Regions from separate parts of the Homo sapiens genome. Here region 1 is linked to region 2. The links come from fine-mapping of genetic effects on gene expression. A gene starts in region 2. The other region holds a variant in brackets. All regions are shown on one strand. Distances are between the middles of the regions. Region 1 overlaps TPPP (tubulin polymerization promoting protein). Region 2 holds the start of CEP72 (centrosomal protein 72).

What was found.
Region 1: its variant is fine-mapped to the expression of CEP72 in whole blood (TOPMed, PIP above 0.99). The same link has a PIP of 0.9 or more in testis.

Annotation. Positions count from the first base shown.
Region 1 is chr5:656,458-671,790 of GRCh38, reverse strand. TPPP (tubulin polymerization promoting protein) reads left to right here. Exons shown (of 4, transcript NM_007030.3): 3 at 5,668-5,821; 4 at 6,495-11,929. The coding sequence ends at 6,689. It also overlaps a transcript of CEP72 not described here. Among named protein-coding and RNA genes, the nearest start is that of TPPP, 29 kb to the left of the region's middle. RefSeq lists enhancers at 1-165, 528-697, 6,151-6,320, 7,738-7,907, 9,209-9,378 and 1 more. The variant A/G (reference allele first, on the strand shown) is at 9,000.
Region 2 is chr5:605,961-621,293 of GRCh38, reverse strand. CEP72 (centrosomal protein 72) reads right to left here and starts at 8,954. Exons shown (of 12, transcript NM_018140.4): 1 at 8,851-8,954; 2 at 2,177-2,304; 3 at 1,033-1,225. The coding sequence starts at 8,932. CEP72-DT (CEP72 divergent transcript) reads left to right here and starts at 9,084. Exons shown (of 3, transcript NR_103444.1): 1 at 9,084-9,142; 2 at 9,541-9,847. LOC105374608 (a long non-coding RNA gene) reads right to left here. Exons shown (of 8, transcript XR_007058672.1): 7 at 15,001-15,215; 8 at 13,684-14,229. RefSeq lists enhancers at 1,519-2,718, 8,171-9,100, 9,101-10,031.

The sequences.
Region 1 (15,333 bases), 50 kb before region 2:
CCAGTTCTGTCTTTGGGGAGCCTCTAGTGGCCACGCCTGGCAGGGCAGGATGAACGTGGCTTCCGCAGAGTGGAGCCCCTGCGGGGGGACCCTTGGCCATGGACGTCTGTGGCTGAGGGTTCAGGAGCTTGTGGCCTCACAGTCAAGGCCTGTGGCTCCTGTACCCTGCAGGCCGGGCAGCACCAGCAATCCCCAGAGCACTGTGCGGCGACAGGCACCCGTCTCCTGCGCTTGGCCAGTGGTGGGCGTGGCCTTGGCTGTCCACTTTGCCCCATGAGCCTGACCAGGCAACACAGGTCATTTGAGAAGGTGATCTCCAAACAAACAGCCAGAAACTGACTTCAGGTGCACAGACCAAAGCCCTGCCCAGGCCGAGACTGGGGTGGATGGAGGCAGCCGAGCCCCTGGGGCCCCCTAGAGAAGGTCGGGCCCCTCAGATCTGCCCGGGGTCCCTCTGGGCCCCAAGTCCACGTCCCACCAAGGGCCACCTCTTCCTAGTGATGTCCACAGGGCGGTGACTACACACGCCCCACCCCCGCCCCTCCCCAGGAAAACGAAAAGGCCGGCAGCAACGCAAAATTAATTAGCAGCAAGCGCAGGGTGTGCGCCCAGAGGGAGACAGTGCGCTGATCCCAGGCGGCCCCTCAGGCAGGGGGGAGCCTTCGGTAGCCAGACCTCCGGAGCTCAGGCAGCCCCCCGACCGGCTGTGTGGGGGCTTCATGGTGGGTGTGCCTGGGGTTAGAGCTGGTGCAGCAATGGGAGGGCCCTGGCCCTCAGCCCGCCCTGGGGCCTGAGCTGCCGTGGCCCAGTGGACGTTGCCATCCATCCTCTGAGCCAAGTAGGGTGCAGGAAGGGCTCCGGTTTCCTGAGATGAGGGGAGAAGCCCTCTCAGGTGGCCAGACATCACCTCACCTGCCCCCAGGTGCTCAGCTGCTGGTGGAGTCACTTATGAGGGGAGAATAGGCAGGGCCTGGAGGGCTTGCCACCGACCTCTGTCGGCCCCGGGAAACGTTGCTCTAGGTCCTCTGTATCTTGCTGGGGCTTGCGGGAGGCAGGGGCGGCCAACAGGCATGGGGAACCCCAAGGCTGGGTCCTGCTGGAACGGGACCACTGGACCCTCCTGGAGCAGTGAGAACTCGGAGCGACGTGCAGGATGGCGATGCCAGACAGGGCTCCCCTAAGGCCGCGTCCCTACCAGGTAGGAACCTCCCCAGAAGCTCCCCCTCCCCCCGTGGGGCCCAGCAGCCAGGGAGTCCTTCCCAGCCTCCTCAGGTCTCAGGGGCTAATGGAAGATCCCAGAGGTTGGTGCCCTGGGGGAGCCGCAGCCCCTCTCTCTCAGACTCGCCTAAGTACAGGGAGAGGCTGTTTCCCCAGAGATTCCCCTCCACAGCCCCCAGCTTCCCACCTGTGGCAGCCTCTGGACAGGGCACTCCAGCCACAGCAGCTGCAGGCCCAGAGAGCCCAGGGGAGCTGGTAGCTGTCACCTCGCCCGCCGGCCCCCGCCCCTCAGAGAGGGCACCATGGGAGGGCATTCCTGATTCACAAGGGTGCTGGATGCACAGTCCCGAGCCCAGCGGGGCCTGTGACGTCCGCCCCGGAGGAACAGGCCTCAGTCCTCGGAGGGCTGTCCTGGCCTGAGCCCAGCTCCTGGAGGCCCCAGGCCGGGTCCCAGTGTCCCTGAGAGACTGAACCAGGCCCAGAGGCCAGGGGACTCAGAGCCTGGGAAGCAAGTCCAGGCCCCGCAGGGCATCGTGTATGAGCAGCGGCTGCGTCCTGCTGGGCCGGCTTTGGGGCAGGGCGCCGGGCTGGGGAGAGCATGGGCAATGAGGATGCCGAGCTCCACACTCGGAGGCTCCTCCAGCACCCTGGTCTCTGGAGGACAGGCCCACTCTATGTCAGGAGAGCCGGGCAGCCAGACTGAGTGTCTCTGGGGAAGAGGCAGGCACCGCTGTCCTAGAACTCCTGAGGACTGCCCCAGGCGGGGGGCACCCGGGTCTCCTGGGGAGAGCTCCCCGCCCGTGTGGGGCAGAGACCCGGGCGCCCTTTCCCCGAGACACTCGGGGAGCGCGCAGAGCAGGTGTCCGGATCTGAATGTCGCCTCTGATGGGGGAGCCCCTCAGCCATCCCCCTCCCGCCGAGTGACTCATGCTGGTGGTGCCTGGCTCCGAGGCCGTCAGAAAGGGCTGCGTGCCTCAGCACTGGTCACCAGGCTGGCAGTCAGGCCTGGCGTCCGCATGTCAGCTTGGGCAGGGTGGGAATAGAAGACAGGAGAGCCTTTGACGGCCCAGGACAGACAGAGGCCCCAAGGGCCCCAGAGAGTCAACACCCCCACAGGGCCCAATGGGCACTGTCAGTTCCAGGCACTGTGGGCTGCCTGGGGTGGCCTGGCTCTTCTAGCACCACAGGGAACGTGCGGGTGTCCACGCCGAGCGCGTCAAGGGGCTAAATCCACCCCCAACACCGCGGACCCCCACGCCACAGAGCTGCCCAGGGCACCTCCGGCTCACCGGGCTCACCAGCGCCCCCTGGGGGATGCTGCTGGACAACAGCGCCCTATGGCCGGCGGGTCTGGAATGTGCCCTGCGTGGCTGCCCTCAGCAGTCCAGGCCCCGCCCTGGGGCTCTGTCTCCCCAAAGCCCCCTCCGGACACAGCGAGGCCTCCGCTCCCCTCCCTGGGACCCCATGAGGCGTGAGGGTCTGAGCTGTGGGACCCCGAGCACTTGGTGTGTTTCTCAGCGCGATTTCTTCTTTGGCTCAGCGCTGTTGATGGTGTCTGTTGTGTCTTTAGGACACGCGTGTAAAGTGTATGGGAACCCTCAGGTGCTGTTTAAACACAGCATCCGCCTTGGGGTCTGGGAATCACCCAGCGGCACCTCCGTGCCTGGCTCCAAGCCTGGCCACTTGGCACCCACCGCGTTGGGTGCGTATCCTGGGCTTGTTCTCGAGGGGTGGGGGTGCTGTCCACGTGCGCACACATCACAGCACTGTGGTCTGGCCGCTGCTGAAGGGCACTGGATTGTTTGGGGTTTGGTGACTACGAGCAGAACAGTGGTAAACATTTGCGTTTATGTGTGAGCCTCTGTTTTCATTTCTCTTGAGCAAGGACCCAGGAACGGGACTGCTGGGCCACCTTTGGCTGTGATGAGAAGCTGTCCACAGTGGCTCTGCCGCGTTGCTCGGCCGGGTGTGGACGAGGCCCCCACCCCGCGGCCTGCTCAGCTCGAGGTGCCGGCAGTTTATTTGATTGTCTGAGCCCCCTGGAGAGTGTGCAGGGGCCTCGCTGTGGTTTCCATCTGCACTTCCCTGACGGCGCCCACGCGGCCCCCTCTCCGTGTGCTTGTCCGCACTTCCCTGACGGCGCCCACGCGGCCCCCTCTCTGTGTGCTTGTCGGTACTTCCCTGACGAGGCCCACGCGGACCCCTCTCCAGTGTGCTTGTCCGCACTTCCCTGACGGCGCCCACACGGCCCCCTCTCTGTGTGCTTGTCGGTACTTCCCTGACGGCGCCCACGCGGACCCCTCTCCGTGTGCTTGTCCGCACTTCCCTGACGGCGCCCACACGGCCCCCTCTCTGTGTGCTTGTCGGTACTTCCCTGACGGCGCCCACGCGGACCCCTCTCCGTGTGCTTGTCGGTACTTCCCTGACGGGGCCCACGCGGACCCCTCTCCGTGTGCTTGTCGGTACTTCCCTGATGGGGCCCACGCGGACCCCTCTCCAGTGTGCTTGTCGGTACTTCCCTGACGGCGCCCACACGGCCCCCTCTCTGTGTGCTTGTCGGTACTTCCCTGACGGCGCCCACACGGCCCCCTCTCTGTGTGCTTGTCCGCACTTCCCTGACGGCGCCCACACGGCCCCCTCTCTGTGTGCTTGTCGGTACTTCCCTGACGGCGCCCACACGGCCCCCTCTCTGTGTGCTTGTCGGTACTTCCCTGACGGCGCCCACGCGGACCCCTCTCCGTGTGCTTGTCTGTACTTCCCTGATGGGGCCCACGCGGACCCCTCTCCGTGTGCTTGTCTGCATGCACGTGTCTTCTCTGGTGGTGTCTGCTTCAAATATTCTGCCCGTCTTTTCACATGGATTTTTTTTCTTACTGCTGAGTTTTAAGGTTCCTTTGTGTATCTCAGAGACAAGTCCTTTCTCAGGCATGTCTCCTAGTCTGTGGCTTGTCTTCTCATTCCCTTAACGGTGTCTTCTGAGAGCAGAGTTTCGAACGTTTTGATGAAGTCTAGTTCATCCATTTTTTCCACTATAGGCCATGTTTTGTTGCCATTTCTAAGAAATCTTCGCCTAACCCCAGGTCACAGAGATCTTCTCTTTGGTGTTCTTCTAGAAGTTTTAGTTTCATAATTAGGACCGTCATCTATTTTGAGTTAGTTTTGTATATAGTGTGCAGTATAGACCAAAGTGCATTTTAATTTGCACAGGGATCACCAGTTGCTCCAGCTCCACTTGTGGAAGAAACAGTCCTTTCTCTCTGGCTTGCCTCTGCACCTGTAGACATCGGGGGGGCAGCATGCATGTGGCTGAGCCAGACTCCCCCTGGGCTGCGGGGCTGGCCGCGTGCCCGTGCCCACGTCGCTGCCACTTTGCAGTCAAGCCTCGATGAGCTTTGGAGTTGGGTAGTCAGTCTTCTGACTCTGTTCTCATTTCTTGAAATCGTTTTGGCTATTCTAGGCCCTCTGCTCACTGACTTCTGGAAAGGCTTGCTGGGGTTTTATGGGTCATTTGTCCCCTGACTCTTGGTCACTGTGGATTCTGCAGCTGGGAGTGCCCTCGGAATGCTTGGCCTGCTGGGTGCAGCCTTTCTCGCGCTGTCCAGAGGCTTCCCTGGTGAAATGCAGGTGCCTTTTGCAGAGCTGAGCCTCATCCACAGGATCTCTTGTTTTAAACACTGAAAAACCCCACTTTGGGTTAGTTGTGGTAGATCTGGTCAGAGGAGAAAAATGTTTTCTAATTAGAATTATTATATAAAAACCAAGAGTCAGTTTAGAACCCTCTAAAATTGCCTGAATGGCCTGTGGTGGGAGGATGTTGTAAGGCGTGGACTGTGTTTAGATGTGGCGTGTTGTGTGACCAGAAGCTTCTCATGGCACCTCCGGCCCACCGGGCTCTGCACCTCTGAGGCCAGAGCAGTGCAAGGGCACAGCGGGGCCGCCTGGCGGGTTTTGGAGCCAGGGCATCTGAGGCGTGGGCCTGCGCCCATGCTGCCAAGTGTCCGGGGGCGGCAGCCCCTCCTAACCATGTTCCTGTGTGGGGGACACCTCCACCTAGGACCCCAACACACACAGGCAGAGCCGGGGCCCCAGCAGGTCCTAGGACCCCCAGCTCCCGGCGCAGCTGGGCGGGGCTGTGGTGGCCCCGGGAGGAGGAGGTGGGCTCCGCTGCCTAATGGCCTCCGGCACTGCCCCAGCAGAGTGCAGACCCGCACACACCCTGTGTCAGAGCGGCCTGCAGGGCCGTGTGAGCATCCAGCTTTATAGAGGACCTGCTTCCGCCAAGCTTTCTTCCAAGACAGTTTGGATTTGCAGTGCTACCAGGGCGGCCGCCTGTGGGTGAAGCCTGTGGGCTGCTGGGCCATGGCTGTCCAGCTCTGCTCAGACCCACGCGTGGGGAGGGCAGCCCTGGGCCGGCCCGCGCCCAGCCCTAAGTCGCCTGTGCCCCTGTAGAGGGAAGTCTTGCCGGACCATCACCTTTGAGCAGTTCCAGGAGGCGCTGGAGGAGCTCGCCAAGAAGCGATTCAAAGACAAGAGCAGCGAGGAGGCCGTTCGCGAGGTGCACAGGCTCATCGAGGGCAAGGCGCCCATCATCTCAGGGGTGACGGTGAGCAGGGCGGGGATGGAAGGCGGGGCCTGGAGGGGGTGGGGGCGGGGCCTGGAAGGTGGGTGGTGCCTGGGGGAGGGGTGGTCAGGAGGGACATGGATTGGGGGCGTGACCTGGGGGGGGTCCTGGGAGGCGTGGTCAGGAGGGCGTGGCCTGGTGTGGGGTCTGAGGAGGTGTGGTCAGAAGGGGCATGAATGGGGCATAGCCTGGAGGGTGAGGCCTGGGGAGGCGTGGTCAGGAAGGGCATGGACTGGGAGTTGGCCTGGGAGGGGGTGGGTGGGTCCTGGGAGGCATGGCCAGGTCGGCGTGGCCTGGGGGGGTCCTGGGGAGGCTTGGTCTGAAGGGGCATGGATTGGGGGGGCATAGCCTGGAGGGTGGGGCCTGGCTGTTCTGACAGCCCCTTCCCTCTGAGGGTGCAGGTGGTGGGGTCCCCAACTACATAAACACCAGGTGGACCTGGGCAATTGTTAGGGTTGTGGCACCCCGCAGGCCCAAGGCTGCCCCAGGGTCAGGAGAGGTAAAAATAAGAATTAAAAGGGGCATAAATCCCAGGGTTTATGCCCCTTGCCCAGTGCCCCACCGCTGGGAGACCTGCCCAGGGCACAGCCATTTCACTTGCTGGCCTCACCTGGCTCGCAACTCACCTGCCCCCTTCCTCCTGCTCCTCTTGCAGAAAGCCATCTCGTCGCCCACAGTGTCGAGGCTCACGGACACCACCAAGTTCACGGGCTCCCACAAGGAGCGCTTCGACCCCTCTGGCAAGGGCAAGGGCAAGGCTGGCCGCGTGGATCTGGTGGACGAGTCAGGCTATGTGTCCGGCTACAAGCACGCAGGCACCTACGACCAGAAGGTGCAAGGGGGCAAGTAGCCCCCGCTCCATGCCTCGCGGCACTGCCGGTGTCCCCAGAGCAGGGACTCTGTCACCTCGCACTTCATTACATTCCTGTACTAACTGGGGCAGAACTCAGACGGGTGCCCCAGAGGGGGCTGGGGGGCGGCCAGGCCCAGGCCTCCCTCCTGCCCCTCCTCCTACCGGATGCCCCCAGCACTCCCCTCTCAAACCAGGTTTGGGCCCCAGTTCGCTGACCCTCCTAATACACCTGCCTCGTCCTCAGCCATTTCCAAAGTGTCTCGCGGATCACACCACACTGGGCACGTGGTTTGCAGGTCAAAGGGGCGTTTTAAAGCAGCTGGCTGTCATGGCAACAGGAGGCTGTGCTGACCTCCTGAGCGGCAGACACCTTCCAGGAGCCCTGAGGGTGGCAGGAGCTAACCCCAACCAGCAGGCAACTAACACGGAATTGGCCCCACACCGGACGTGGGAGGTGTCTGTGGGGCCCGAGGCCTGTCCTGTGTGCAGCGGACACCACGGGGCCTTCCTGCTTTCCTGGGCAGAGGGCAGAGTGAGGCCACCTGGCGGGGGTGCTGGGCGCCTGGCACATGTGTGGGGAAGCCGGTCACATGGACACACCTGTGCACACATGCCTACAGGCCAGCTCTGTGCCAAGGGCAACCTAGGTAAAACGAAAGCCGTCAGGGGCAGTGGGCGGCTTCCCGGCTGACCACAGTGGCTTGGACTGTGAGGGTAGAGTAGGCTCGCTTTGCTTTCCTGAGAAGATGCGGTGGCTGCCTATGTTCTCAGAGCGGGTCTGGGAAGATTCAGAATGTCCGGTCCCTGTGGTGTTGCCAGGCAAGAGACACGAAGTGCCGAGACACTCCTCGCCTCACCGCGTGACAGAGCCTCTGCCCGGCCCTCCCGTTCGCCCGTCCTCACTAGCTGCACCCTGTTTGCTCGCAGACCTCCCATTGCCACAGCCCAAGCACCTTCTTCAACTCTCCCAAAATGGCTCAGCCTAACCTCTCCTGGCCAATCCCCCCCGCCGGAGAGCAGGACACTAGGGAGGACCCCCAGTCCTGCAGTGTCTGTGGGGGTTTCTCTGCCAGCAGGGGGCTGAGCAGAGCCCATCCAGGACACTCCACACTGCCAGGACACACCCAGGCGGCCCGCCCTTGCCTGTCTGCACCTGGGGAGAAGCCGGCGCTCCTGCTCCCTCCTGGGGAGGCTGACGGGTGTGGCCACCCGCTGTCACAATGGCACACTGCCACTGTCCCTTGGCACGCACACAGCCACAGCCACACGTGTGACCTGCTGGGCCGTGGTTCTGGAGTCTACCTGCGGATGAGCCTGCGGCAGTCCTGGGGAAACTTTTCCAGAGCCTGTTAGCCCGTGGCTACGGTCAGGCTCTGGCCAGGGCAGAGGGCTGCCCAGGGCCAGGCTCACAGTACAGGAGGGTGGCGAGGCCCCTCCCTCACTGGCACGCATGAGCACCACCCGCCTCCCCGACTCCCAAGAGTGCACCTGCTGCGGCCACAGCTCCGTGGAAGGACTCCCCCTACCTGAGCAGAGCAGAAGCCCCAGGGCGGAGCTCCCAGCCAGCATGGTCCGCTGAGGGCTGGGGGGCGGTCTCCGAGGCCCCTCAACAGAGAAGCCTCCACCTGAGGATGGGGAGGACCTGGCAGGCAGCTTCCACGGCAGGGCTGGGAAGTTCAGTGCCTGGAAATAAAGAGCAAGGAAAAATGGACCTCAGGCTTCGTGGCTCCTTTAGGATGTCACCTCACCGGCCTGGGGAAGGCGGGGGGTGCCCAAGCCCAGCCCTGTGCCCCCGCTGAACCTGGCTGGACCGCGTGTGAAAGGCAGAACTAACGTGCGGAAACATTTGAAAACAACTCTGAATGTGCGGTTCGGAATCACCCGATCACAGACGAGCGGTCACCGGAATCGCCCGGTCACAGACGAGCAGTCATCGGACTCACCCGATCACAGACGAGCGGTCACCGGAATCGCCCGATCACAGACGAGCGGCCACCGGAATCGCCCAATCACAGACAAGCAGTCATCGGAATCACCCGATCACAGACGAGCAGTCATCGGACTCACCCGATCACAGACGAGCGGTCACCAGACTCGCCCGATCACAGACGAGCAGTCATCGGAATCACCCGATCACAGACGAGCAGTCATCGGACTCACCCGATCACAGACGAGCGGTCACCAGAATCGCCCGATCACAGACGAGCAGTCATCGGAATCACCCGATCACAGACGAGTGGCCACCGGAATCACCCGATAACAGCCCATCACAACTCCAAAGCCCTTGTGTTGAAAAGGCCGAGGACG[A/G]GTGGTCACCAAACAGGGTGGCTCCCCAGGTCCCGAAGCCTGAGACCCGGAAGGCCCTGGCACCCTTACACCCTCGGACTCCTGCCCTCCTCGGCCTCCCTGGCCCCAGCGCGGCTCCACCCTGGGCTGCGTCTCCTGGTCACAGGCTGCGTTTCTCCTTTCTGTCCGTGGGCAGCCCAGTCCCCACAGTCACGGCCAAGCCACGCAGAACGAACATGACTCCAGAGGACCTCGCCCTGGAGCTGAGCCTGGCGCCGGGTCAGGACGGAGGGAAGGGCGGGTTGGGGTCCGCGGGTCCTCACACCGCACGGCAGGCACAGAGGCTCGCCAGGCCCTGATCCGGTCTGTGGGGACGAGGGACACTGAGGAGAGGTGCTGGGCACCAGGACGCTGCCTCCTGGTCCCTGGTTGGCCTCAGACAAGCACGGCCTCGAGAAAAGAGCCAAGCGCATCGGGAGCACACCAGAAACCGGCCCTGAGCACGAGAAGAGCCTCCGCCCGGCCCGGGCACCACCCGACCTCGCAGGGAGCAGGCCCTGTCACCGACGGGTCACCTCGCCCACACGGCCAGCACCGACTCACCACAGCCCTTCCCAGACCTGGCTGGAGTGGCCGGAGCGGCGGGGCTCATGGCTCCCATCTTGGCCCCTGGAGGTGAGCTCATTCACAGAAGTGGTCCCTTCACTCTGAGAGAGAAAATCGTGGCGTGCATCCCAAACCCTAGGCCACGCCTGTGGGTTTCGTGAATGAGATCGAGGCTGCTGTGGCACCCTGCCCGTCCTGGCCTGGAGCACCCTGGGATCCTGGAGGGAGAGGCCCCACGCCCCCACTCTCCCTCCACACTTCCAGGGTTGGTGCCCACGAGTTAGAGGCACGCCCTCCCCCAGCGGCCCTCAGGCTTTTCTCAGACATGCGGGAGCCAGGAGAGCACCCTTCTCCACTCAGCTCCAAAGCGAATCTTTGAAAACACCCACTCGGCTCCCATCTCTGTCACCTAGCCAGGAGGGGTAGCAAAAATAAAGTCACGAGGACATAGTGGTCACCACTGTCAGTTACAACTTGTCTGTGGAATCCGTAATTGCATCTGTGTGCCGCCTCCGAACACAGAACATTGTTTGGACGGCAGCCCCACTGCACATAACAGACCCGTGCATCTTCCTCAGTCAGTTTCTGAATATTGTGAATTCAGGCAGGTGTGTGTTCTCTTCTGCATGTTTTTATGCACTGCCAATTAGCTTCTACTAACCACGGTTCAACAGAAAATAAATGTGTATTTGTGAATAACAAACTGCACAACCTGCAAACCAGGAGAGAGGGACAGGTTCTGTCAGGGGTGACACCAGGACACAGGGACAGGTTCTGTCGGGGGTGACACCAGGACACAGGGACAGGTTCTGTCATGGGTGACACGAGGACACAGGGACAGGTTCTATCATGGGTGACACCAGGAGAGAGGGACAGGTTCTGTTGGGGGTGACAAGAGGAGACAGGGACAGGTTCTGTCGGGGGTGACACCAGGAGAGAGGGACAGGTTCTGTCAGGGGTGACACCAGGAGAGAGGGACAGGTTCTGTTGGGGGTGACACCAGGACACAGGAATAGGTTCTGTCGGGAGGACAGTGCTGATCGTGTCTCAGCATCAGGAAAGGAGAAAGGCAGAGGGAGAGCGCTGAGAAGACTGTTCACGCCAGAGTGCTTATTTATTTTTAATTTACTGCTATAGGATAAGCAACCAGGTAGTGTTCCTAACAATTAGCGTTACCAAAATTAAAGTTCAAATTATATGTTTAAAATATTGTAGAAGATATATATTTATACTGGACTACTTTTACACCTTCTAATATCCTGTCCAAGTTTGGGCGCAGATGGTGGAGTTGGGCTGGCATCATGTCCTGTGGCCGCCCCACTTGCCTGTTGGTGCCACTCCATCCCGGGCCCCAGGGATGCCAGCTCAGGGCTGACCACAGCAGCCCTGCGTGGGCATCACCTCCTACCCCAGCCCCCATCCTGGGCTGCTGCGGCCGCCTGCTTTTGTGAATGGTGTTTTGTTGGCACAGGGCCTGTCCTGTGTTTTCACACAGGCCTGTGGCTCCTGCTGTACAAGTGGAGTGGGGAGGAGTTGAGATGGAGATGCCTTGGCCCTGGACACTTACCTGTCCCTCTACTGGCCCAGCTCATCTCCTCCTGTGGGCAATCACGCGTGCACTGGCCACCCTCCCACCCCACAGCACACACCACGAGGGGATGGCACAGGGGGAAGATGAGGCTGGACCGTGATGTTATCAATAGGCTAGAACGTCCTTCAAACACTGAACCTGCATCTTTCCTCCTCTTACTACTGAACACTTTGTGAGCTCTGGTGGTCCAGGGTGCAGCGTTTGTCCCTGGGCATGTGATGGGGAGTCCTGGGCACATCGAGATGCTTTACTTCTTTCTTTCGACCTCTTAAAAAACTAAACCAAGCCAAACCACAAAGGAAATCTGCACAACTTAAGAGAAACTTGAAAGGGATCGTGTAACTACTAGTTTGTACTAAGTTTTTTTCAAGAAAGGGAAACAAATTTATATATATATATATATATATATATGTGCAATATATTTTTACACTGTGTGATTAACATTAGGGAGTACTGAGTGCATCACTTTATCAGTGTGACGGGTGATGTCCACGTCATGGCTGTTCTGACTCTGAAAGCCACTTCTGCTGATGTCTAAACCGCACTCACCGCGGACGTCCGCGGGGTGGGGTGGCCCTGCTGTTCCTCCTGCAGGTGAGAGGTGTGGTGTTGCCTGTTGGACTTGCTGTTGAGCCTGGCTTGCAAACCTGTAGTGAAACAGCTCGTGTCTGTGTGCACACTGCTCCTGTGTCTGCTGTCGTTAACATTGTGTGTCAAGTTGGTAAAGTGACAAATAAAGGTGTTAAAACATGGATTTCTCTGTTCCTCAGAGCACACGTGTCTGTAACAGGTGATAACAGGGGATAGGTACTGGAGGGGCCCCAGGTGGGGAGTGTGCTGAGTGCCTCCACTGGGCTGAAGCTCACAGGGCCAAGGCCCTTGTGTCGCCTTTTCCCGAGGGAGTCTCTCGCTTCCTCATCTAGACAGGAGGACCGTGAAGGAGGAGCAGGCGGACCAGCCATCTGTCAGGTGTGAGTCCTGCTCTAGCACTGGTGTAGCCCTGGGTGGGGTCTAGATTCAAGGGGAATGGACATGAACACTGTGAACACCACCAGAGCCCCCAAAACAGGACAATGTCATCACAGGCTGCTATAAAAAAAATGCCAACCTGAGATACTAGCCCAGCGAAACAGTTTTCCAAAATGAGGATACAATAAAGGCATTTTTGGACAATGAAAAGAGAATTTGCCACCAGCAGACATTTAAAGAAATTCTAAATGCAGAAAGCAAAGGTGATCTCAAATGGCATGTCTGGTTTGTGAAGAAAGTGGAGCAAAGAGAATAAATAGGTCAATAACTCCAAATTAACAGTGGCTATATCAATACTTTGTGAGATTAAAATGTTTCATAAAAATACTTGGGAACCCCCACAGGTGAGCAGAACAGGAGCATGGAGAGGGACGCGCGCCTCGCGCTCCAGGAACCAACCCCAGAGGTGGGTGAGAGCATGGACTAAACGCACACATGCCATAAGCATGGGACAGAAGCAGAGTACAGTCTCCAAACGAGCAGAGGGACATGCGGGATGACAGGAGATCATCCAAAAGTGGCAAAAGTGAAGAGGGAAAAAACCATGAATAGAACAAACAGCACAAAATGAGATGGCAGATTTAAACTAATGAGATGGTGGATCAATCAGCTTCGCTGAGGCCGGGCGCGGTGGCTCACACCTGTAGTCCCAGCACTTTGGGAGGCCGAGGCGGGCAGATCACAAGGTCAGGAGATTGAGACCATCCTGGCTAACACAGTGAAACCCTGTCTCTGCTAAAAATACAAAAAATTAGCCAGGCGTGGTGGCGGGCGCCTGTAGTCCCAGCTACTCGGGAGGCTGAGGCAGGAGAATGGCGTGAACCCGGGAGGCGGAGCTTGCAGTGAGCCGAGATCACGCCACTGCACTCCAGCCTGGGCAATAGAGCGAGACTCCATCTCAAAAAAAAAAAAAAAAAAAAAAAAAAAAAAAAAAAAAAAAATCAGCTTTGCTGATAAAACAAGAGAAAGAAACACAGAACAGGGAAATTGATAAAATAATATTTTAACCCATATTTATTTGTAATTTCAGCATGGCTAATGATAGATCAGATCAGAAATTGAAAAGAAAATGGAGGCAAAGGGTGTTTCTTTGAAAGGACTGAAGAGAAAGTTCAAATAACGAATATGAAGAATGGCCAAGAATGGGCTGAGTCCCCGGGAGGCAGATGCTGAGGTGGCCTTTGTATCACAAGAGGCTCACTGGTGAGGAATGCCCCTGAACAGCAGCAAGGGGAGGAGGCCGGGAGGCCTCAGGGAGGCTCTGGAGATGACCTGCTAGGGAGCTCCCTGTGGTTCGCATTAGGCCCAGGCCCTGCCTGCTTGGACACTGGCTGCAGCTGCCTGGATGAGTGTGTCCTCAGCTCCAGAGCCCAGGCACAGCCTGACAGCATGGTGGCTGGAGATGGTCTCTACCCCTGTACTCCCTGCCCCTGGATGGCAAGGTCTCGCTTGAAGGGACACAACTGTCCCTACATCTCTGCCACAGGGACACACACAACTTCAAATGTTGAAGCCATTCAAATTATGTGTGTTATACCCCCCAAAATGGAAAATTAAGACAATATGGACCAATTCTTAGAGACACATAACTTACAAAAACTAACTCGAAAAGAAATGGAAAGCCTGCTCAGCCCTGTGACTTAGGGGAAGTCACTGCCAGCTACAAAAGAAAACCCCTAACACTTCAGTGGCTGGACACACAAAATGTATTACTCACACAACGTCCAACTTCAGGAATAACAAGAGATCTCTTCTAACAGAAGACAAACAGACTTCCTAATCCTGTGATGCAGCTGCCCAGGTCACTGGCAGGGAAGCTATCACAGTGACGCACCAGCTCCCGCTGCTCTGGCCCTGAAATGACTCACCTCAGTCCCACACACAGGCTGTTGCTCAGTAGTCACACGGCCCCAGCCCAACTCAGGGATATGCAGCGTAAAGGCAGGGGGGACATAAGGATGGTCTGTGTGAACGGTTCTGCCACATCCTGGAACACTGAGTTATACTGGATCAGTAGTCAAACCTCCTGACAAAGAAAGTTCCAGGCACAAGTGACTTCACCAGCAAGTTCCATCAAACATCCATGGAAGAAATAATTATAATCTTAAGTAAATTCTCCTAGAGAATGGAGAAAGAATACACAACCTAGCTCATTTTACGGTGGTGTAAAGATGCGAATCCTTTCAAGAACAGCATTACAAAGGAAAATCGTAAGTGGCTGTCACCCGTGAAGAGAGATACTAACCACTGTACTAGAGCACGCAGCTACCCAGTGCTCAGGACGCACCAGATGCTGCCCGAGAGTCTTATTCATACTAACTCATTTCACCTTCACAACAATCCTGTGAGGAAGCCACTATTTCCCCATTGTACAGACGAGGAAATCAGGGCCCAAACACAGGTGCTAGGTAGTATAGCTGGGCCACAAAATGCTAAACAAAATATTAACAAACCAAATATAACAATATGTATGTAAAAGAAAATCCATAATTATTAAGTTGGACTTATCTCAGAAATTCAAGGTTTATTTTTAACAAAAGCAAATTATGGTCGTTAAACACATCAATATATTAAATGATAAAAATCATGGTCATCTCCATCACTGCAGAAAAAGTGATAAAAGTCATCCATTCTTGAGGCGAATTATTGATAGAAGAAGCTTTAAAACAAGCAAAAAAAATCCATTACAAGTGAGTGGATAAATGGTGAGAATTTATCACCCCTTTGAATATCAGGAAGAAGACAACGATGCCCACTCTGTTACCACCTCTAATCAGCACTGCACTAGGGGTTCCGACCAGTGTAGAAAAGCAAAAAACAAAACAAAAATAAAAACATAAAGTAAAAATCCAGAACAACAGGAATGGGAAAGAAAACCCATTACTCATAGAAAACATGACTGTGTGCCTAAAAATGAGGAAACAGCTACAGGCAAATGATTAAAATTACTAGACTGCCGGATACAAATTAATACACAAAAATGAATTTCCATGAAATGGCAACACATAATTAGGAAAATGAAATCCAAGCACATTTTTAAAAACAGCATCGCAAAATAACAAGGACCTAGGATTAAATGTAACAAAAGACATACAAGACCACTGTGAAAAGTATCAGGCTGTATGAACA
Region 2 (15,333 bases):
TCTAACAAGATAGTTGGGATTCTGTGATTCTTTTGTTTTTGATAAGGTCCTAGGTTCAGAAGGAGGGGCAGCTTTCGAACAGCGGTGCATGGTAGGTCTGACCCTAACAACAGAAGCAACCAGGGAACGTTTATAGGCCCCTGGCCATGCCGGGCAGTCTGGGAGCTTACAGATATTAACTCAGGTCTCCCCACCACGACATGTCAACACAGCATTCTTATCCCCCCACTTCACACAGGAGGACTGAGGTAAGAGACCCTGCACCCTCTTCTTCCCCATGGACTCTGGTCAGTGTGCCCCTGGGCTGAGGCCCCAGCTTTCTCTCCTGGATCTGTGACTCGGGGTAGGGTCAGCAGAGACACCACCAGGTGCTCACAGCAACAGCAACAGCAACAATGCCTCCGGGGAGGCAGGAGGCAGATGGGAAGGTGACCTGCGGCTGCCCCAACCCAGGGACCCTCCCTACTGGGCATCGCTGTGGGGGCCCTGGAAGTTCTGCCTACAAGACTGTCATGGAAAGCCTTTTCTTTCAGGAGCATGATCCAAAGGTCACTGCACATCCCCTCCCAACCCTGTCCCAGTGGTGGGGTGTGGGGGACAATGAGCTGCTTGTCCTGTGTGCTTCCAAGTGGGGCAAAACCAGGCAGCATCCTGCTGTTTAGCTGCACCTGAGATGATACCTGGGGGCTATGCGAGGAAACAGGACAGGAGATGTTCAGGAACGTGCCCAAGTCCAACAGCCATGACGCGGAGAGCCAGAACAGGACGTAGCAGCCTGGTCCGGGGCTGTGCTCCCACGGCCCCAGCCCTGCGCCCTCCCAGGGTGCTCAACTTCCAGCCCTGTCCTGTGCAGACACAGGGCCTCTCGAGCTGTGTGTCTGCAGGAACTCAAGCCACCAGCGTAGAAAACCAACTCCCCGTTCCAGAAGGAATCAAGCATGTGACGTTGAGCACACAGACACCCACTACGACTCCCCGACTCCCATACCCCACGGGGACAAAAGCATGAGCGTGGCCCTGCCTGATGCCTACCCAGCTGCTGGAGCTTGGGGAGCAGGTGCACAACAAAAAGGCGGTAGTCAGGCTCAACCTTCACCACGGGGTTCAGCCGGAAGTCCACATCCACGAGCTCGGTTAAGGCGTGGAGCCGAAACACTTCTGCCAACGAGGAGATGCAGTTGTAGTAGAGATTGAGACTCTCCAATGCAGTCAGGTACTGAATGCCCTGTCAACAGAAAACACAGTGAATTCATTCACACTTTAAACAAGAAATACACAGTGAAATAAGCCAGCAACACACACTGACCAACCAACTGTATAAACTTATTTGCAATAACTCCATGTCATTACCAGGAAAAGTAGAAAAATGAAACGTTCTCATCTGTGAAGTTCTCTGGGCCCCACGCGGTGAGACGGTCGTTTATGGAACCCACATGTGACGCAACTAAGCACAGCTAATATCTACCGAGGCCTCAGCGTGCAGCAAGCTGAGTGATGTGCACGCACAATTTCATTTAATCCACACGCCGCCCTACAGGGTGAGAACCATCAGCCCCCCCTTCACAGATGAGAAAGCTGAGGCCTGGGAACGGGGAAAGATGAGGCAGCACTGGGTGTAGCCTGGGCTAGGTCCGCATCTGACTTGGAGCAGACTCCCGAGCTGGTGTCAGACGTGGCCTCCATAATGCTCAGGCACCAGGCTCAGGGCAGGCGCATCCCACGGTTCTGTCCGGGCCAATCAGGCCATGCAGACGCAGCCTCCATAATGCTCAGGCATCGGGCTCAGGGCAGGCGCATCCCACGGTTCTGTCAGGGCCAATCAGGCCATGGTAGTTGTGCACAGCTCCCCTCACCACCACCTAGGCATCTCTCTCCAGGGTGACCCTGCCAGGAGCCCAGGAGGCAGCCCCAGGCCCACTGCACTGCCACTCAGTAAGTCTCTGGGGTCTCATTTCATTTCCTTTAAAGATATAATCATCGTCATCAGAGGGCGACAACACAACGTAACGTGATGTGTATGAAATGTAGCCCACGGTAAACACAAAAATACGCAACACAAAGTGTACCGTATACAGATGTAAGCAGAGGGTTACAAAACAGACTCCGTTTCTGCTGTGAATGGACTTTCCACTGATGTTGATAGCAATAAATTTTAAGAAAGAGACCTAAAACTTACCTCCAGACTAACCAAGGAGTTGCGCGAGAGATCCAAAGATTTCAGACCTGTTAAACTCATCAGAGAATGTCCCAGGTGGGTGATCTTCTCTTGGTAAGTTCCAGGAATAGACAATGACTGAAGCTCAGCTAAGAATAGAAAAATTGTAAGATTTTAATCTTTTATTTTGAAAACAATTATAATAACGGTCAAGTTCTTGGTGTTGGATATGGAGTAGAAACTGACACAGATTCTTGGTTTAATTCAACTTTACTCAGGCTCCTGAATCTTCTCCTCGGCCATCTGTGCCCTTCCTTGTAAAGTCCAGTTTAGTGCGGCCAAAACCCCCACCCTCAGTATCTGCTCAGGTTCCTCATCCCCAGATCCCATAGGTGGTGTCTGCTCACCCTGGCCTCTCTTTCGCAATAATCCTGTTCAGTTGGTTTAGCCCAAATCCCCTTACTCCTCATGTGTCCTCTCAGTCATTTTCCATCCACTGCCCCCACCCTGACCCTAGGCTATAAACTCCCCCCGGCCCCTGCTGTACTTGGAGTTGAGCTCCATCTCTCTCCCCCACTGCAAAATCCCAGCGCAGTGGCCCCAGGCCCACCTCAATGGTTCTGAATAAAGCCTTCCTCACTGTGCCTGACAAGGGTCATTCAAAACATTTCTTCCTCTAACAGTATATGTAAAAAGATTGAAAGACAAACTTTAACACATGTGTCCTATTGTGGAATAAATCCCTTTATTTTCCCTCTTACACATTTCTGTATTTTCAGCTTTTCTCAGAGAGATATGTATCCTCGTAATCTGAAAGAGGCACCTAGAACTCAGTGCAACTCCTTTGGAGTTGGAATATCAGCACTGACGAGCAAGGAACGTACCTGAAGTTTCGGCTTATGTTTATCTCTACAATACCTCCAAGCCCACACGCTTCTTCCCACCTTTACTGCCTCTCCCTCCAAAACCGTCTCTCCCCAGGAACACCCCTCTACTTCATCTCCCGCCTCCACTTCTGGCTGCTCAATTCTGTCACCCCTTGCAGCCATCACCATCTGAAACCCACTCGTCGGGTAACCTGTCTGCTGTCCTCCTGTTACAACTGTGGTCGGGCTGTGCAAGCTCCACGCACCCCATAAGCAGTCACTACATCAACATTAATTACAAGATGAAAGTTTCCGTAATCAAAAAGGCAGTTTAGATCCGAATACATCAATACTTTCCTGGGAACATTTATGTTTTAGAATATGTTTTGGTTTTTTTGTTTTTGTTTTCAGATGGAGTCTTACTCTGTTGCCCATGCTGGAGTACCGTGGTGCGATCTCGGCTCACTGCAACCTCCACCTCCTAGGTTCAAGTGATTCTCCCGCCTCAGTCTCCTGAGTAGCTGGGATTACAGGGACACGCCACCACATCCGGCTAAAACCCCACGTTTCCCTGTTTCCTCAGGTAGCCCTCAGGCATCGTCTCAGGTGCAGCTAAACAGCAGGATGCTGCCTGGTTTTGCCCCACTTGGAGGCACACAGACAAGCAGTTCATTGTCCCCCACACCCTGCCACCGGGACAGGGTCAGGAGGGGACAAGGTGCAGTGACCTTTGGCTCATGTTACTGAAAGAAAAGGGTTTCCGTGACAGTCTTGTGGTTTCCTGACCATGTTGGCCAGGCTGGTCTCGAACTCCTGACCTCAGGTGATCCATCCACCTCGGCCTCCCAAGACTACAGGCATGAGCCACCACACCCAACCAGAATATGTTCTGATTAAGTTTAAAATTTGGTTTGAGCTCTTCCAGTTCCAGGCAACATGGAGAGGACACATTTCAACCTGCTCCTCCCGCATATTAGACCCACTGCCCTGGAGGAAAATATACGGAACAAGCATTGGGGGACTGAAAGGAACAGAAGCCAACCAGCCAGGGGCCTCGGCACTCGAGAGAGAACCCAGCGCTGAGTCCCTGGCTTGACTCTGGGGTTTTGTTTATGCTTATTTACTACACATCCCACTCTGGGTGCCACAGAAGTCGGCAGCCCAGAAACACAAAAAGACCAAAAACCGTAAGCCTGCTCTCGATGGCCAAAGGACCAGGAGGGGCCTGGCAGGACAGACTCTCTGTACATCATCAGCCCTCCTGCAACCACACACACTGTTCACATCATCAGCCCTCCTGCAAGCAAACCCCCACCCACACACACAACAACACATACACACACGCACACACCCCTCGTCCACTTGGCACCAGGAGGGGCCTTGCAGGACAGACTCTCTTCACATCATCAGCCCTCCTGCAAGCAAACCCCCACTCGCGCGCACACACACACACACATACACACACACACACACACACCCCTCGTCCACCTGGCCTTGCGCAGCAGCCAGCACCGGGGTGTGAGAATGGATCCTGACTGCTGTCCCGGCCTGGCTAGAACGAGGTGGTGCCCTTCACTCTCCCAGCCAGTAGGGTCTGCCAGAGGCCGTGGGTGAGGCAGGAGCTCCATGACTGTCCCGGCAACAAGGTGGCACCCAGCAGGCTCGAGTGAGGAGTCTTCTCAAGTAAGGGGATTTAAACAGGAAGCAGAGTCTCATGACATCATACCCAGCATGTCCACAATATGATAAAAAATGACCAAGAACCAGAAAAATGGCAATTTGAATGAGAAAACACAGTCAATCAACAGATACCACCAAGAGAGAACACAGAACTTAGGTCTAACAAGGATTTTAAAGTGACTGTCATAAAAAATACTTCAATGAGCAATTACAAACACCTGAGACAAAGGAAAAACTAGTCTTAGCAAAGAAACAGGAGATATAAAGAAGAAACAAATAGAAATTTCAAAGAAAAATACAATAACAAAAAATCACAAGAGCAGTTTAATAGCAAAATGGAGATGACAGATGAAAACTGTAAAACCGTAGAGAAAAACTAAGAGAATCTGTCACAAGCAGACCTGCCCTAAGACAACTGCTGAAAAAATTTTTTCAAATATAAAGGAAAAACGAAAGAAACCTAGAGCATCGTGGAATGAAGAAAAAATAACAGAACAGATAAACATGCAGATAAATATGTTTCCTCCTGAGTTACTGAAAAGGCTAGGTATTTAAAAAAAATCATAATATTAATACGGTTCTCAAGGTATGCAGAGGAAATACTTAAGACAACTAAATTGTAAAGGGGAGAGGATAGAGACCTAAATGGTGATAAAGTTTCTATATTTCACTTAGAAGTAGTAAAATACCTGTACAAGTAAACTGTGTTGAATTACATAAATACATTGTAATTTGTATAGCCACCACTATGAAAACCATACAAGGAGATATACACCAAAACATAACAGATAAATCAAAATGAGATACTAAAAATATTCGAGTAAGTCACAGCAGGCAGGAAAAGGGAAACAGAAGAAAAAACACAGGAAACAATCAAAAAACAATAAAATGGCACACTTAAGTTCTAATATTTAACAATTAGATTAAATGTAAATGGCCTAAAACACTACTACAAGACAGAGATTAGCAGAGTGAATAAAAATAATGAACCAGGAAACTAATTTCAAATATAAAGATACAGGTAGGTTAAAAGTTCAAAGCAATGGATAGGAAAAGATACGCCATGCAAAAACCAATCAAAAGAAGCTACCGTAACAACAGTAATATCAAATAAGACAGATGTCTCAACAAAGAAAATTACCAGGAAAAAAGAGGAACAAGGCCCAGGCACCGTGGCTCACACTTGTAATCCCAGCACTTTGGGAGCCCAGCAGAGATCACCTGAGGTCAGGAGTTCGAGACTAGCCTGGCCAACATGGTGAAACCCCGTCTCTACTAAAAATACAAAAATTAGGCAGGCGTGATGGCAGGCGCCTGTAATCCCAGCTACTCGGGAAGCTGAAGCAGAGGAATCATGTGAACCCGGGAGGCAGAGGTTGCAGTGACCCAAGATCGTGCCACTGCACTCCAGCCTGGGGGACAAGAAGGAAACTCTGTCTCAAAAAAAAAAAAAAAAAAGAGGAAGACTACATATACTAAAAGGGTCAGTCCACTAAGAAGGTATAAAAATCCTAGCTATGTAATTCAACAAACAGAGCTTCAAAACATACAAAGTGAAAAAAAAAACAGACAAATCCACAATTACAGTTAAGGGTTCCAGACCCCTCTCTCAGTCATTAATAGAGTCACTAGACAGAAAATCAGCAAGGATACAGAAGAACTGAACAATATCACCAACCAACAGGATCTAATTGATATTTATGTATTTACATAACACTCCACTCAACAACAGAATACACACACACTCAAGTGCACCTGGAACATTCAACAACATAGACCAGATGCTGGATCATAAAACAAACCCTGACAAATTTAAAAGAATTAAAATCATACAGATTATGTTCTGGCCATAATGGAATCACACAGAAAAATAACAGGAAAATATCCACACATGGAACGTTAAAAACATACTCCTTAAAAATCCACAGGTCAGGCCGGGCGCGGTGGATCATGCCTGTAATCCCAGCACTTTGGGAGGCCGAGGTGGGCGGATCATGAGGTCAGGAGTTCCAGCTACTCGGGAGGCTGAGGCAGGAGAATGGCATGAACCCAGGAGGCAGAGCTTTCAATGAGCCAAGATTGCGTCACTGCACTCCAGCCTGGGTGACAGAGCGAGACTCCACCTCAAAAAAAAAAAAAAAAAAAAAATTCACAGGTCAAACAGGAAGTATCGAGGGAAATTCTTAAAATACGCTGAACTGGATGAAAATTAAAATACAACATAACAAAATTTGTGGATACAGCTAAAGCAGTGCTTACAGGGAAACTTGTGGCACTGTTTATAATAGAAAATAGGAAAGTCTCAAATCAATAATCTACAGTTTTGCCTCAAGGATTTAGAAAAGTATAAAATAAATGCAAAGCAAGCAGAAAGAAGGAAATAAAAAAAAGCAGAAATCAATGAAATTTGAAACTAGAAAAACACTGGAGAAAAATCAAACCCAAAGTCGGTTCTTTGAAACTATCAATAACATTCACAAGCCTCTAGCAAGACTAAAAAAGAAAGAATACACAGATTATCAACATCAGGAACAGAAAAGGGATATCCCTGTAAACCTTGTAGCACTAATCAGGGAAGAAGGGAGGACTCGGCATGTCCCGAGGTCAGCTGCCCTCTCACCTGCTTCCTCAGAGCCCTGTGGTGCCTACTGCCTCAGGATCACTTGGATTTTGTCACGAGGTTACAGTTCCCCTTAACCACTCTACAGATAATAACCTGGACATTATAAACCGTTAAGTTTTCCATTTGAGATATTCTTTCAGGACCTGGGGACTGATGCCAGCTGGTCTAAAGGGCCCCGCAAGCGGATTCACCAAAGAATGCAGTTTCCACACCCTGATAATTCCATGGCCCTTACCTCCACCAACTGACAACACCAATCTTCCAGCTCCTCACAGTCCTGTTCCTCTAAAACCCCCAGCTCAGGCTGGGTGTAGGTGGCTCATGCCTGTAATCCCAGCACTTTGGGAGGCCAAGGCAGGTGGATCACCTGAGATCAGGAGTTCAAGACCAGCCTGGCCAACATGGTGAAACCCCGTCTCTACTAAAAATATAAAAAATTAGCCGGGCATGGTGGCGCGTGCTTGTAATCCCAGCTACTCAGGAGGCTGAGTGAATCACTTGAACCTGGGAGGTGGAGGTTGCAGTGAGCTGAGATTGTGCCACTGCACTCCAACCTGGACGACAGAGTGAGACTCCGTCTAAAAAAAAAAAACCGCTCAGATCTCCTTGGGGAGATGGATTGAGGCCTCCTTCCACCTCCCTGCTGGGCCCCTGCCAGCCTTAAACTCTTTCTCTGCTGCAAACCCCACTGTCTCAGTGTATTGGCCTGTGGCCCCCACAGCACCTGACTGAACCTGTTGGTCCAGTAACACCTGCAGACCACACACAGACATTAACAGGCTAACAACAGAACACCAGAAACAACTCAACACACACACTCCACAAGTTAGCTCAAATAAGCCAATGCCACAAAACCCCACACAGCCAAGACTCGCGGTGAACTAATATGAACGGTTCTCTAACAACCAGAGATACAGAATTTGTCATTTAAAAGCTTCAAAAACAGAAATTGACATGTCCATATGGTTTCACTGGAAAATTCCAGGAAACATTCAAACAATGAGCACACACTCTACAGAACCTCTTCTAAATATAAGAGAAGGCAACACTTCTCAGCAGTTTATGAGCTCGGCTTCACCTTGACGCCAAAACCAGACAAAAATAAGCCAAAAAGAAGGAAACCGGCCACCAACATCCTCAAGAAGGCCGAGCGCAACAATCACCACAGAGTGGGCCCAGGAGAACCAGGGAGGTGATCCCCAGCGGGAGGGCGGGCTGCGCTCCTGGACAGCAAGGCCGGCTCCCTCTTCTCAGCGGATGTAACCCCCAGTCACGGAACCAGTGACCCGATAGACAGGCAGGGGCCGGGACGCCGGGACCCGAACGCGGGCAGGGGCCGCACCTGGGCACGGGGGGTGGGTCGCTCACCTGGACACGCGCGCCCCGCTCGCCCGCGACCGTTCCGGACGCCCGCGGCGCCTGCGTAGACGGGTCCCGCCTGCCCACGGTCCGCCGCCGCCCCGGGAAGCTCGGCACCCACCCCCCCGCCACCTCACGCTTGCACCCCCGCCCGCCCTCCGGCGCACCCAGGTCGCGGTGAGGCCCTAAGCCGCTCTTCGCCCGAACCGCCTCCTCGCTCAGCACCAGCCGAGGGCCAGCCCGCGCCATGTTTCAAACGGAGCCCTCGGACGGCGCCTGCGCGGCGGGCGGGGCGAGGCTACGAGAGGGGCGGGACCTGCGTCGGCAGAACCGAGAGCCTGGCGGGACGGGGCGGGGCCTGCGCGGCGGGGCGAGGGGCGTGGCTGGGGGAGGGGGCGGGACTGCGTGGGCGGAACCAAGAGCCTGGCGGGGGGTTCTCCTGAATGGCGGTTCTCCCAGGTACTGGCCACGCGACCCCAGCCCCCGCCCCAGATAGCTCCCTGTCAAGGCTTCCCTGGGCGCGGCCGCCTTCTAGGCCCCGGCCCTTGACACACGCGGTGTCCTCCCGGGGAAACCCCGAGTAGGCGCGGTGGAATCGCGGCTGGTGGTGGGCATGGGGACCCTGCCCCATCCACACTCCGCTCCCACCCTGAACCCAGCGCCCCCGGGGACCCCCGACTCACCTAGACTCCCCACCCAACCCGACCCCCCCGCGGGGACCCCTCCAGACACCCCAGCACCCGCCCGGAGCCTTGTCTGCTGCACCTCCCGTCCAGCCCCGGGCCTCCCAGAGGTGGGCGGGAGCTGAGCTTCTCCCCAGCCAGTCACTCCCCACGGCCGGTCCTTCTCCACCCCAGAACCTCCAGAGATGTCACAGGCCCAGCACTGTGGCTCGTGGCTGACCGCGCCCTGGAGGGTCTCGCTGTGTTTATCCTTGTGAGGTCCTTCTACAGAGCTTTCAAGGAAGACAGAGTTCAGCCTGTTTATTGGGAAGACTTTAATCCTGCTCAAGACATCTACTGTGTCACCGTACCACTGTGGCCCAGCGCCTGGTGGAGTGAATCCAGACCCCCAGGGGTGTCCCCTCCCCGCCTTTCTCCTGGTGTCTAGGGGCACCCAGAAACCCTCACCCCAGATTAGACCAGCTCGTTGGCAACATCCCTGGTATGTCACAGCCTGGGGGGTGATAGACAAGGCAGGGTAGTGGTGGGGGGTACGTATGGTGGTAGTAGACGAGGGTATACACAGACAGAGGGTGTACATGGGGAATGTGTGCAGGGGCTGTGTGCAGGGAGTGTGTGTGGATGGTGTAGGGGAGTGTGTAGGGGAGTGTGTAGGGGGTGTGTGCAGAGGTTGTACACGGGGTGTGCAGGAGGTGTACTCAGAATGTGTTCAGGGAGTGTGTGCAGAAGGTGTACATGGGGTGTATGCAGGAGGAGTGTGCAGAGGGTGTACATGTAGGGGGTGTGTGCAGACAGTATACAGAAGGGGTGTGTGCAGAGGATGCACACAGGGTCTCTGCAGGGAGTATGTGCAGTGCTGTACATAAGGAGTATGCAGGGGGTATATACAGGGTGTATGTGCAAGGGGTGTGTGCAACAGTGTGTGCAGGAGGTGTGTGCAGGGTCTATGTGTGGGGGTGTGTGCAACAGTGTGTGCAGGAGGTGTGTGCAGGAGGTGTGTGCAGGAGCTATGTGTGGGGGTGTGTGCAACAGTATGTGCAGAGGTGTGTGTAGGGGCTATGTGTGGGGGTGTGTGCAACAGTGTGTGCAGGAGGTGTGTGCAGGAGGTGTGTGCAACAGTGTGCAGGGGGTGTACACAAGGTGTGTGCAGGAGGTGTGTGTAGATGTGTGTGCAGGAGGTATACACAGGGTTTGTGCAGAGGATGTGTGTGGGAGGTGTGTGCAGGGGATCTGTGCAGGGAGTGTACACAGGCTGTGTGCAGAGGCTATGTGCAGGGGGTGTGTGCAACAGTGTGCAGGGAGTGTACACAAGGTGTGTGCAGGAGGTGTGTGCAGAGGTGTGTGCAGGAGGTATACATGGTGTGTGAAGGTATGTGTAGAGGTGTGTGCAGGGGGTATACACAGGGTTTGTGCAGAGGATGTGTGAGGGAGTTGTGTGCAGGGGATCTGTGCAGGGAGTGTACACAGGCTGTGTGCAGGGGGTATGTGCAACAGTGTGCAGGGGGGGTGTGTGCAGAGGTGTGTGCAGGGGGTGTACACAGAGGGTGGTGGCAGGCGGTGGATGCAAGGCTGCATCTGTTCAGCCCAAGACGTTCCATTGGTCCAGTGGTGTTAGAGCACATTTGGTCAGGTTGCCTTCATGGGATATTTGACAAGCTGCAAACCCGAGGGCATGCTGGTGCCCGAGGGCGCCTCCGTGCTGACCTCAGCATGTGCAGCAAGAGCCAGGGCACAGGGGCGGCCTGGCCCATTTCAGGCAGGTGCTCTGTGGGAGGGTGGCTGTCTCCACTGACAACCCAGGGAGGTCAGCAAGGAGGAGCCCTGAGGTGGACTCGAAAGCTGTGGGAGCTGATGGCCCTCCTGGTCTCTGCCACAGCCCTTAGGCTGTGGGACACACAGCGTCACATTTGATCACTGTTCATGGGGCCTGCCGAACACTCAGCATTCCTGAGTGCAGATCGTCACGTAACTTTCCAAAAATTGCAAACCCAGATATGGCTCCATGACCCCTCCTGCAAGACTGTGAAGGAGTTCAGGGCACAGCTGAGCCCTCACACCCCCAGCCCCATCACTGCCCCTGATATGCACTGAGTGGAATTCTGTCCCGCCAGGAGACAAACAGTGGACAGCATCCTGGCTCTTCAGAAGCACATGACGATGGCAAACTGAAGGCCTCATGGGCCCTCACCCAACAGCAGTGGCTTTTCAGGGCATAACACAGGCCCCAAACACTGAGCCTCTTCCTCCTGGGCAGGTACCCAGCTGGCCAGACAGGGCAGGGTAGGGGCGAGTGGGACCTCAGTGGGCAGCCGGTCCAGGACAGAACCACACGGGGATGTGATGGAAGTACCAATGGGAACTTTGAAAACAATGCCTCTGCTCACCAAAGTATCCCAGCTTCACTGTAGAAAATATAGACACTACAGAAGGGCACCGAGATTCGATATGCCGCCCTGCTGAGATAACCCACACTAACATGCCCACATGTATCCTGCAGGTGTTTTTCAAGCCTGTGCGTATTGACAGTCATGAGGCTATGCTAAGCATTGCCGGATGCATCTGCCACTAAGTAGTCTTTAACGTTGTTTATTAAACACTTTTAATGGTCACGTTAGATCATAAACCAAACCCAACTTTATTATCCTGTCTTCTGCTGCTGAAAGTTGTGTCTGTCTCCACTTCCTCACGGTGCTCACTCTGGTTGGCCAAATCATGAAGATCCATGGAGGCGCGGGAGCCTTCCGGCCTGGAATGGGGCAGCAAAAGCACAGAGCCGCAGAGAAGCCGGGAAAGCAAAGGCAGGGGCTGCTGGGCTGGGCCCCATCAGCCCCATGGCAGCGGCACCCGCACAGGCCTGGGGTCCCCAGCAGCAGGGATGCTGTCTGTGGGCCCAGGGCTCCTCCACAGCTTTGGGGGCTTCCTGCCAGAGGAGGGGGGTGGTTCTCCTGGGAGGGGCCCCAAGACAGGAGTCCCCAGACCTGGGCACGCCTCACCTCGGGTAGGGCCCCAACGCTTCAGCGGGTCTCACTGGCATCCCTAAACCTAGACCACAGGAGAGTGTGCTGTGCCATCATCACGATGACCCCTCCCCATCCCAGCGCACGCTCCCACGACGCACCGTGCTCACAGTGACCCCTCCCCATCCCAGCGCACGCTCCCACAATGTGCCGGGATCACAGTGACCCCATGGGCTACCTGCCGCTCCCAAGGACTAATGGAGGCCTCTGTCCCCAGGTTCTATCCCGGGTTCCTCACAGGGCACCAGCCCTCAGGCCCAGTTAAATTCCGGAGCGGCTCTTTAAGCCCACAGGCCCAGGCCGCTATGGTAGGACCCAGGTGGGAGAGGCTCTCCGTGTGCTGTCTCCCTGACAGGTGCCCCATCCATAGCTTTCTAGAACATCCCAGGGAGGCTCCCAGGCCCCGAGCCTCAATCCTCAAGCCTGTGGGTCCCAGACTGCAGGCTCAGTGAGCCCTACAGAGACCAGGCCAGCGGAAGGAAACAGGGAGACCCACATGGTCAGAGAAGAGGGCTGGAGGTTCAGCCTGAGGGGCCTCTGGGCTTTCTCTAAACAGAGCGGGGGTGGGAGGAGGCTGTGATGTACAGTGAGGGGACTTGAGAGGGAAATGGGGGCCTCCACCCACCCCAGGGACGAGCGCTCACCCCAGGCCCACCTGGCTCGCAGCATCCAAGCCAGGGCTACGCAGAGCAGCTGCTCCCAAACCCAGCTCCCTCTGGGTGCCTGAGCCAGGCTCAGAGATGCATCCTGCATCGTTCTTTCTCCATCCTGTGTCAACAAGACAACACAGGCAACCAGCGTGGCCATGCTGGAAATCCACAGCCTAGCGGAGCGGCCTCGCCTGCATTCATGTGGCCAGTGGAATTCGCGGCACACACATTCGCACTGTCACGCTCAGTTCACGTGTGCACACGCTCACAGCCACAGCACACTCACAGTTCACACACCTCACACGCATACATACACAGGTGTACGTGCACATGCACACTCACGTACACACCCACCCACACACAGTCTCACACCCAGGTTCACACCCACACATGGACCTCAATCCACCGGTACCTGCCACACACCCACACGCGGACCTCCATCCCACTCCAAGGCCTTTCCCCACATCCCCGGGCGGCAGGAGCCCAGCGGTCAGTGCAGAGGCATGGACGAGGGCCAGGGAGGCAGGTGGCACGAGCCACCTGCTCTCCACATCCTTCTCGAGAGGAAAGGAGGTGCCGGCCCACCCTGCCCACAGCTCCTCGGCGAAGCCGCGTCTGGTCCAGGGCCAGCCGCCCCTTTGCTGGTTTCAGTTCCTCCTTTATCCATTCATAAACGTTGAACAAAAGCGCTCTTTTCCCTCACGGTATCTCTAGCAGTTAAGATCAACACCAATATTTGAGAACTGTCAATACTGCATTTTACCCACTTCCCAAATGTGAAACCGGAAGGCACACGTAGCCCTTGCTGGGCTGTTTCCAGTGAACACAGTTGAGGGTGGGCTTGGGGGTTCTCCGCATCGTAATGTCTTAGGAGGGGGTGGGGCCACACCTTCCCACCTTGTCCGAGTAACAGGCCACGTGTGCGGTTTAGTTCACACCGTGGAGGAGGGGAGTGTGAGGGCAGCGGGTGGGCCGCTGTGTCCTGGTCTCTGTCCTGCTGTGTGGCCAGGGAGGGAGTGCGGCTGTCCGATTTAGGTTGAAACACCGTCCATCGGCATCTCTGGGGGATGTTGCCACTGCCCTTGACTCCTGCCCTTGTGTCTGGAAAGGGGAGGCTTCAGAGTGAGTGGCCCACAGCCTTCCAGTTGCAGGAGCTGGTGTGGGAAGGGGCATCCCCATGGCTGTGGGCCGGAGCCCTGTAATAATGGGAAGTTTCAGTGCCCTCATAGGAGTTTCACTGGAGCAGGTAAATCGGTCTGGGAGCTTGTGAACCGCTCTGGGCTGCTGGGGCTGCACTGACAACAAGCACAGAGCCCAGCTACAAGTGGCGTGGCTGCAGGAGACGCCCTGGAGACCTGAGACAGGCTGGGTGTCTCTGCTGTCCCAGGACAGAACCCAGCTACAAGTGGCGTGGCTGCAGGAGACACCCAGGAGCCCCCAGGCAGGGTGGGCGGCTCTGCTATCCCAGGACTGGGTCAGGACAGCTCAGCCCTCGCAGTCCTCAGCCAAGTGCTGCCCCGCTCTGCAAGGGGCCCAGAGGGCTCCCAGAGGCCTGCGGACCAGTGCTAGGCCTCACATCCCTGAACCACTCCCTGACCTCACATCCCTGAACACATGCAGGGGCCGGGCCTCAGCTGGGGGGCATGGCACTGGGTGAGGTCAGAGGTGCTCCAAGCATGTGGCCTAGAAGGTTTGTCCAAAACAAATTCTCTCCTGGACCCTGGAGGGGAAGCAGAAGCCGGCTGCTTCCTATAGTTCCCAACACCAGAAAGCCCAGGACTTCTCAGGGAAATCTTGGTTTCCAGCTTTTTCCGAAAGTGCCTGATGGGCAGGCATTCACTCCTTTCAGACAAGCCCCCCAGCCCTTCAGCCACTGAGCCGTGACCCTCTCCCCAGGAAGGACTGGTGGGGCTGGGGCACTGCCACCACCTGGAGCCCCATCTTCAGCCGCCTGGCAGGAGCTGCACCTGCACATGGCACCCGTGAACTCCGGCATCTTCCTCTGTCCTCCCAGGCACTCGGCATCTTCCAGGGCTGCTGCCTCCTGAGCCCACTCGATATGGTTTAGATGTTTGTCCCCACAGATCTCATGTTGAAATGTAATCACCAGTGCTGGAGGTGGGGGCTGGTAGGAGGTGTTTGGATCACAGGAGTGGGTCCTTCCTGAATGGCGTGGGTCATCCTGTTGGTGATAAGTGAGTTCTCACTCTGGTAGATCTGGTAGTTTAAAAGTGTGTGGTGGCTGGGCGCAGTGGCTCACACCTGTAATCCCAGCACTTTGGGTGACTGAGGAGGGTGGA